2 linked regions of the Homo sapiens genome follow. The protein of the gene in region 2 purifies or fractionates together with the protein of the main gene of each other region. This does not show direct contact. Each region holds a gene or a part of one and is shown on either strand. Other genes may lie near its edges.

Region 1 (5,091 bases), on a different chromosome or scaffold from region 2:
AACTCAAACATTTCTACATAAGACAAATAATTCTGAAATGCCAGTGAGAATTTAATAATACTGGAAGTTCTCATTGGCAATTTAGCAACTTTTCCGTCTCTGGGCTAAATAACATTCTAACAAGCATTCCTCTTTAGGTTGAGAACTGTTTAAGCGCAAACTCTTGACATAAACTCTAGCTTGCCTTTAATGGCAGTTGTGAGCAAGGCTTGGCGTAGTTACTGGGTTGTTTTTTTTTAGACAAAGTCTCGCTCACATAGTTACTCTTTAAGAGCCACTTTCATTAAAGCATTAGAGGTTATTTTCTAAAAGGAGTACTGATACAGTATTATTATTTTACAGCTCAAACTATTCGACTTTTCACACATGGGACTCCTATAGTAATAAATCACAACCAAATAAAGTGGAAAAAATACATACACACGTAATTTTTCTTAAACTTGCAAATTCAACAAATGAAACAAAAGATAGACACTGAACTTTTTCTGAAAAGTGCTTTCATAAGCCAGTCCAAAGACAAACTCCTACTATTTTGATTACCCAAGGAAAGGGAAGGTAAGATATGGGGAACAAAAACATGCATTTTTCTATTTATATCTGAACTCGGAAATCATCTCCTTAAGACGATTTTTCTAATTACGAAAAACTTTAGTAGCTTTTTAGACCACCTATTCTAAAATACCAAATAACAGAGAAAGTAAAACTCAATTCCACGTGTTTTTCTGCTCCTTTCAAAAGTGGAAAGAGGAGACCTCTAGAGCTTTAGGTACAAACAAAAGAAATATTTACAATAAAGAATCCAGACCACATGGTTTGGTGACACCTACAAAGATGGTTAAAAGTCACAGAAGTACAGGAATGACAGAGCTGTCCAATAAGTGATCACAGCAGGGTTCCTGACAACAGACTGAGTGCTTATTTATACAAGTGGAACTTATTTTCACATACATTTAAGGAATGTGGGCTAGTATTGAGACAATTTACTGCTGGTGGAAATGTAATTAAAGACTGTGCTAACCAAATAAACTCTAATTTGTTTTTAGTGTGCCACCAAATTATCTGCAAAACAAAATCCTAATTAGGTCAGCTACTTTTAAGACAATGTTTAAATAGGTATCGAACCCCTTTTGGTTCAACTCAACTTCTGATCAAGGGCAACACAGATTTTTTTTCTAAACATCTAAATCCAGGAAAAAAGAAAAAAAGTACTGCACACTAGCATGATCACAATAGACAACTTGACATTGAAAAACTATCGAATACAAGTTAGATGCCGTGAATAATCTAAGCATATCTAAATACACTCCAGGAAGCACTGTATTCATTTTCTCTTTCTCATCCCTCTATTATTCCTAAGTGTTCACCTCCAGTCATTTACATGTTCAGTTCCATATGTTGTCAATAGAGCCATTCACTCATGAATAAGGCAGCATGACCTCCACAAGAGGCAATTTAACAGAATTAGCCACAACTAATTGAAAGTCTCCCTGCTTTCGGTTAAAGACCTTATCTCCTCTTCCAATTGCAATAAAAACTACTAAATAAAACGTCCCAAGAAATTAAATATCAATCCAATACTAATTCTACTTTATTAAACTAAGGCTTATTAAAAACACAAGGAATATACTTTCTGATGGCCAACAATTCTACATTCACAAAAGTTATTTAGATTAGCACAATAATTTTAAAATATAAATTCTTAAACACCTGACCAAACCTCCTACCACATTAGGGCATTGGAATAGTTCACTAGAATTGTTTTAAAAACTTAAAATTTTCATTGCAATTCTGCTAAGTCAAAATATAAGATTACGTATGAAGTGCACTTTTATTTTAAACAGAACAACTACTTTAAAAAATACAAATTTTGATTGTTTACTTTTTACAGCACTCCAATTTTAAAACTGGGACTGAGGAAGAAAAGAGATGACATTTGGAAAAGATCAGCATTTCCAACTAAATTACATTTTCTTCCTTGTTCTTCACGCAGTTGGCAGTGATTTCAGGTTTTCAGACTTCGCAGCTAAAAATCCAAAAACTTGCATAAGAGCTCCCTGCGCTCTCCCCTAAACCGTCTGGGCGTTCTGAGGAGCTACAGAAATCACGCCCTTGATTCTGGATAATCGAGTTCCGCCCTTTCCATAGCTACCGACCAGTCTTTACAATCTGGTTGAGGAGTGGGAACTTACGGTCTGCTAATGTGAAAAAGCAAGCAGAGGGAGAACAACAGAAGTACGTCCACCATAACTTGGAGAATGACCGAATTCTGTTGAGGGGGCTTCCCAAATGAAAAGCCTGACTTCAGTTACTGGGTGGGAACAGGAAAAGGAGTCTGACGCAGCTAGAAACTAAAACTGAACCAGACTCATAACTCAGCGAGAACTGCAAACTCCTGATGTGTGCAGGTTGCCGCTTATCTCCCCTGGGCCTGGCAGGAGCAAGCATTTGAACCCCTTGGCTAGCTTAGGGCGCAGGACTTCATCCCCAATCTCTGGCGTCGTTACTGGCCCCCAACCCTGGTCTACCTGCAGCCAGTTAGGACGCGCCAAGAGCCCACCTGCGCCGCCCGCAAAGCACGTGGGAGGGAAACTGAGGCCCGGACAGTTCTTTTTCCACGCCCACGGAGCGCCGATCGCGGCCTGGGCCAGAAGGAGCTATACGGCAAAAAGGGGACTGCACGCCGAACCCCATTCCCCGCCGGCTCCTGTTTTCTCGAATCTCCAGCGGCCCGGGCCCCCTCCCCCCGCGGGAAGAATACTTACAGCCGAGCGACCCAGGACGGGAGTGGCTCGGGAAGACGCGCTAGCCGCTTACGACTGCAGTCCAGCAGGTCCCCGAGGCAGCGGCAGGTAGTGGGGCATGGGCGCTCGGCGGCTACCCCAGAGGGCTGCCCGAGTTCCCCGCGACCGCCGCTGTCTGACCGGCCAGCGCGCCCCAGCACCGCGCACAGCAGCAGCCCCAACCCCGCGGCGCGCGCACGGAGGCTCGGCGCGCTCATCGCGGTCCAGCGGCCTAGGTCTCTACCCGAAGCTCCCAGCCGGCGCGCGCTCGGGGCCCGGCACAAACTTCCAGCCGAGGGTGCACGCCCGCCCTCGCGGTCGCGTGCGCGCTCCTCCCTCGCGCTGCCCGGTCAATTCCTTCTTTTACTCCCGGCGGCGAAGCCCTTTCATGCCCCCAAACAGCAGGAGGGAAACCGAAAAGAACTGCCAACTGCAACAGAGTTGCAGCTTGAGCAGCGTCGGCTCGCCGAAGCCCCTTCTTGTCTGCAAAAGAAACTTTTTCGCCTCCACCCCGCGGCACTGCGCCAAGTCCCCGCGCGGCGGAGTAGCAAGGCGGGCGGGTAGAGGCCGACGCGCGCCCATTGGCCGACTCGGCTGCGGGCGTCCCCGTGGCCACGTGACAATAACACCGCTCCAGCCGGGGGCCTACGCGCGGGAGAAAGTGGAGCTGAGATTGTAGGAAATTCAGAGTTATATTTTCCAGCCTCTCCAGCCAGAAGTCTCCACTACGTCGTGGGAAACATATATCAAATGGAGTTGAAAGGCAAAAGGAAGTGAGCAAATACTGGGCTAGTTCTCGGAGTTGGAGGTATTTAGGAGAACTTCAGGGAAGTAAAGTTTAATTAGCAGTGTTTTCAGGAAACTTTTCAATTCCAAATTAAAGACACTGATAAATTATCCTACCATCCACAGATGAAAGAGTGGTTTCAATGAAAACAGCTCTTTCAACGTTAATGCTGGTGGGTGTTCCCCCATACATCGGCTTCAAAAGTAAAAACAATAATAAAACGTAAAACTCGTGGTTTTGGAAAGTGTATATTGAATTACAAATAGCCAGCCTTCGTGCACTGGATAAAGCTGGGCGGGGTGGGGGATGGGAGATGACCTTCTAATAGACCTCGATGGCAATCATAGATTCCTGGTAATAGTAATAATAAAAGTAGTCACAGTGACATTTCAAAGTAAAATGAAAACTAAGACCTTGGAGGAAAAAATTAGTATATGCACCTTGGTCCACTTGCGCTTTGAGTAATGACACATGTTGATTGAGAATGCTACCAGGGTAAAAGTACCTCCCGGCCTCCTCAGCTGGGGGAGTGGATGTTTGGGGCTGGATTCAGGCTACAGGACTTCCCAGTGAAGTTTGTTCCTTAACTTACAGGTGATCAGCGCCACAAGATGTTGAAACTAATGGAGACCGCAGAGATCATGTGCTAAGGGGCCTTCCTCCTCTGGGTAAGGAAATAGACCTAGAGAACGTAACTAATGTGTTTGTTGCAAAAAAAATAAAAATAAAAGCAAGACAGAAAACATGAACAAACCAAAAAACAAACCCTGGAAGCTTAAAGTAAGTTTTCACTTCTATACATTGTTTATTGCATGCTGTCTGCCCAAGCTTGTCTGTCCTTGGAGTTGCGTAAACTGCTCATGATTGAGGAGTGGAGATAGCTTGTGGAGTTGAGACTTTAACCCTGACTCTAAGGCCCATTGATTTTTCACTGTAGCAAATCACTCCCACTTACGGGGGAAGGAAAAGACTCACTTTGAAGTTAACACACCCTATTTTAGATATGGTATCCCATTTTCTTATTTCCAGCTACCATTAACAACAACGCTACTACCTTTTTGGATGATGTATAATTATAATTAGAAAATATCTATAATGATGGCACCTTGGTTTTGAATTTATGATTTTGTCTGCTTGGGAGTAGACAAAACACACTACAGTCATAGTAAGGATTTTCCAGCTCAGTATCCCCCATCTATTTTTATTTATTTTTTTTATTTTTTTATTTTTGAGATGGAGACACTCCAGTCTGTCACCCAGGCTGGAGTGGGGTGCAGTGATGCGATGTCGGCTCGCTGCAACCTCTACCCCCTGGGTTCAAGCAATTATCCTGCTTCAGCCTCCCAAGTAGCTGGGATTACAGGTGCCCACCACCACACCCGGCTAATTTTTTTGTATTTTTAGTGGAGACAGGGTTTCACCATGTTGGCCAAGCTGGTTTCTAACTCCTGACCTCAGGCTATCCGCCCGCTTTGGCCTCCCAAAGTGTTGGGATTACAGGCGTGAGCCACCACACCCGGCCCC
Region 2 (4,373 bases):
TTTCAGGTTATAAATGTGTTCTAGTTTGCTGAAGAAGGAGTTTGCATTTCTTTTTTTCTCCTGGATTTTGGGTGATTTCGGATATGAAAAGGAGTAACTTTATTCTGCTATCTTAAAACTGCCTAGTGTTGCAAATTGTTATGTGTTCTGGTATTCCCTCAGATTGAACATTAGCCAGAGCTCTCGGAATAGGGTCAACATCTGCTGAAGCTGGGATCTGACAATAGAGAGGGAAGAGTATGAGAGTTAAGAATAAAATGGAATGGTGAAAAACCCACAGGATACTTGTCTGTGCTGTGTGGCAGCAGAGTTCTTTTCGTCCCTACCTGGACTTTGGCTAGGGGTGTACCACTGTCTGGGTGGGAGGTTGAGGCTGGGGAGGGCAGGGCATGAAAAACACCCATCCATCTCCTCATCTGGCTCAGGAGAAGTTGTTCTAGGCCCAGCAGCTCTCAGGCCAGGGAGGGGAGGGCACACGCCTCTGCTCTGGACAGGGCTTGGCTCTCCATCTCTCTCCATACCCAGGGCCCGTCCAAGTAGTCCGAGCTCCTTGGGTTCTGTCTGGTTTCCTAGTGATGGTGGCCAATTCCTTCTCCATGAAAACCAGGATCCTGTCTCAGGGAAGGCAGTCTGGGGTCAGTGCTGTTAATGGTATTTACCTGATCGAACAAAGAGCTCACCCATCCAAAGGGAGGGGATCCACATGGGATGCCCAGAGAACAGAGCCAGAGAGGAAAACCTGTCGGCAGAGTTCCAGGACCCTTTATATTATGGTCTCTCAAGTTCCCCCATCACCAGAGGGAGGTGTTTTATCCTCATGTTTTTTACTGGCAAGAAATCTGGAGTATCCAAGAGGCTAGGAGGCTTTCCTGTGGACCCACAGTAGGAGATGGAGAGAGGGATTTGGACGCAGTTCTGTCTGGCTCCAGAGCCTGGACACCGGCTCCCTTATCCTTCCTCCTCACCTCTATTGACCTCCATTCACCTTCCCATGGAGCTCTCACCCCATCTTCCCACGCTGCCTGATGTCCATGTCCCTGGTGACCCTGCTGCACCTTGTTCTGTGTCTTGCCGCTCAAGCCTGGCTACATTTTAGGAGGTTATTTAGGCTCCCCAGGACTCCAGGGTTGGGAACCAATGGGCCACACCCTACAGCCCTGTGTCTTGAGCAGCTGTGTGCCCCCCAGCCTTGGCACAAGGCTTGTCCCCTGGGATCAAAAGCACCTGGGTTCTCATCCAGGCTCTGACCTTGAGCAAGTCACAACTGCTCTGGGCTCACGCCTTATTTCTAAAATCAGACTCCCTATGATTGTTCTAGGTCCGGAACACAGACCCTGAAGCCAGATGACCTTGGTTTGAATCTTGGCTCAGTCACTTATTTGCAGTGGGACTTCGGCTAATCGCTTATCCTCTCTCTGACTTCAGTGTTCTCATCTGTAAATTGTGAATAATAATGTATATCTCTTATAGGGAGATGTTAAGGATTAAACAAACTAATAAACATAAATAATTTAGAACACTGGCATATGGCAGGTGCTAGATTAGTGCCAGATATGAGTGTACGAATTATTACTATTATTGTGCATGCAAAGGGCTCAGCCAAGGCATGGACATAAATGAAGGGATTGGCAACTGGCTGCTGATGCTGCTGCTATAACCCGTGCCCTTTGCTTCCTTCCAGGAGCTTGGGCCCCTGCCGCAGCCCGGTAGAGGCTGTGGAGGTCTACCGTCCGGAAGCCTGGTTCCCAGCCCCGTGGCCCATTCCTGGCTACGGGGAGTGGAGGCTCCCACGAGGTAGCGGTGGCCTGCAGCGGCCTCCTCCCCGCAGTGAAGCATGGGCCAGAAGCTCTCGGGGAGCCTCAAGTCAGTGGAGGTGCGAGAGCCGGCGCTGCGGCCGGCCAAGCGGGAGCTGCGGGGTGCAGAGCCCGGGCGGCCGGCGCGGCTGGACCAGCTGTTGGACATGCCAGCGGCGGGGCTGGCTGTGCAGCTGCGGCACGCGTGGAACCCCGAGGACCGCTCGCTCAACGTCTTCGTCAAGGACGACGACCGGCTCACCTTCCACCGGCACCCCGTGGCCCAGAGCACCGACGGCATCCGCGGCAAGGTGGGCCACGCCCGCGGCCTGCACGCCTGGCAGATCAACTGGCCGGCTCGGCAGCGCGGCACCCACGCTGTAGTTGGTGTGGCCACGGCCCGTGCTCCCCTGCACTCCGTGGGCTACACGGCGCTGGTAGGCAGTGACGCCGAGTCGTGGGGCTGGGACCTGGGCCGCAGCCGCCTCTACCACGACGGCAAGAACCAGCCCGGCGTGGCCTACCCGGCCTTTCTGGGGCCCGACGAGGCCTTTGCGCTGCCCGACTCGCTGCTCGTGGTGCTGGACATGGATGAGGGCACACTCAGCTTCATCGTGGATGGCCAGTACCTGGGCGTGGCCTTCCGAGGTCTCAAGGGCAAGAAGCTGTACCCGGTGGTGAGTGCCGTGTGGGGCCACTGTGAAGTCACCATGCGCTACATCAACGGCCTTGACCGTAAGTTGTGCTGGGCTGGGGGGCAGGGCTTTCAGAGGCTGCCAGGCCCTAGGGAAGCTGGGCAGGCCACACCTCCATCGCCACTTGGGAGGATCCTGCAATGTGGAGGAATGGTCAGGACCTGGGTTTCAATCCTGACTCTCTGCTGGCTTGGTGATTTGGGGCTGTGCCTTAGTTCTCCCATCGGCAAAAGCATCACGATGATAGTAATCTAGCTCACAGTTGTAACGATCAAATAAAGTAATAGTAATCTAGCTCACAGTTGTGAAGATCTAGATAACATGTGTGAAGTGCTCAGAACAGTGACTGGCACCCAACAGGGGCTTTGAGTGTTGATGCCAATTACCAATCTTCCAGTCTGTACAAAGGTTGTACCAAATGACCCAAGCTAGTCACAATGGGAAGACAGTGACAAGTCCCCAGTCCCTGCACTTAAATGCCATGTACTCAAGTTATTGATAAGTAATAAGTACTGATAACCGTCCTTTATTGGCCATCTACTGTATTTGAGAGGCTGAACACCCCAATTCCAGCGCTTATGGGCCAACTATTAAAGGGGACAGCTGCCTCTTATCTCCAGCCGACTGTCATCTCACGGGAATGAAAACCCTGGGTTGTGGAATCTTGTGACTTTTTCCAAGAGAGCCCAGAAATCTAGCTTGTGTGAACTGTTCCAATTTTTAAAGTTGACAGCTGCTGAAAAGTCTATATGGGCAAACAAAATACCCTTGCAGGCTACAAACCAGCCCACAAGCTGCTGGGGTTGACCCCTGACAACTCTATGGCTTCCTCTCATTTAATATACACAACCATCCGGCAAGATAAAAAGTGTAGGAACAAAGACGGTTATTGGTTTTGGGAGGGAGTCACTCAGGGAGACAGGGTGGCCTCTGGACAGAGGCACACGTGGCTGCCTGTCCTGAGTTGAATCCCAGCTGAGGGGCCAGGAGCCAGGCACTTGTGGGCTTGCACACTCCCCAACATCAGCCCACTAGCACCAATCCAGACTTCCTGCCACACCCCAATGAAGCTCTCAGAGGTGGCGCTGAAAGCTAGAATTTCCAGTTTATTCATTCTAAATAAGAGATGTAATTACCAGCCCCTGAGGCAGATCCTCCTTTTAGAAATAAGAAAACTTAAGAGCAGAGCTACAGAGAGCCAGAATCAGGGTTCCCCCCAGTTCTGATGGCCCTGAAGTCCACTCGTTTCCTATGTTCTCCCCTTTAGATGAGGGACTGAGAGTAACACTCCAGAAAAGAGTAACACTTCTCCAGAAAAGAAGTCAAGGACAAGATTTTACTCAAGCAAAATTTACATTTACTGGAGCACAGGAAGGGGACATTTGATGGTTTCCAAGGGTGGCAGGCTAATGGAAAAGTGGCTGCTGGTATGCTCAGCACTCTGGCATAATTGTCGACATTCTTGCTCATATTTTATTTCCGTGGTTGTTGCCTACAATTGCCATTGAATGGCAAAATGTTGTTCCATTTTCTCTGTTTAATGGGTTAAATCTAGGAACTGATGATTATGTCCCTGAGAAGGGCTAATTTAGTCATCACAGTGCCTTGTGGAAAGTGTCTGGAGCCTTCTGAGACATAGTGACCAGGCAAATCCCAGTGGTGAGAAAACCAACAGAAACAACAAACAATCTTTATTTAATGGAATTGGAAAATTTATTTGCTGGAATTAATCACTGGACTAGAAGAGTGGCCTTGGTGTACCAAGGCTCTGGAGTCTGATGTGACTTATTTCCAAGTGCTCAGTGGTTTTGTGTCTTTGGTGAGTCACTCTTACTCCTTAAGACTCACTTTATTCATCTGCAAAATGGGATAGTATCAGGTCCCC

Evidence for each region.
Region 1: the proteins of SPSB4 (region 2) and LRIG3 purify together in Homo sapiens (co-immunoprecipitation; 2 studies listed by BioGRID and IntAct, with this or other methods). This does not show direct contact.

Annotation. Positions count from the first base shown.
Region 1 is NC_000012.12:58,917,238-58,922,328, forward strand, and holds the start of LRIG3 (leucine-rich repeats and immunoglobulin-like domains protein 3 isoform 2 precursor), read right to left. Parts: upstream 3,268-5,091; 5' UTR 2,999-3,267; coding exon 2,763-2,998; intron 2,269-2,762; exon of another isoform or gene 2,246-2,268; coding exon of another isoform or gene 2,190-2,245; intron 1-2,189. UniProt on the Homo sapiens protein: May play a role in craniofacial and inner ear morphogenesis during embryonic development. May act within the otic vesicle epithelium to control formation of the lateral semicircular canal in the inner ear, possibly by restricting the expression of NTN1.
Region 2 is NC_000003.12:141,064,271-141,068,643, forward strand, and holds part of SPSB4 (SPRY domain-containing SOCS box protein 4), read left to right. Parts: intron 1-1,681; 5' UTR 1,682-1,834; coding exon 1,835-2,528; intron 2,529-4,373. UniProt on the Homo sapiens protein: Substrate recognition component of a SCF-like ECS (Elongin BC-CUL2/5-SOCS-box protein) E3 ubiquitin-protein ligase complex which mediates the ubiquitination and subsequent proteasomal degradation of target proteins.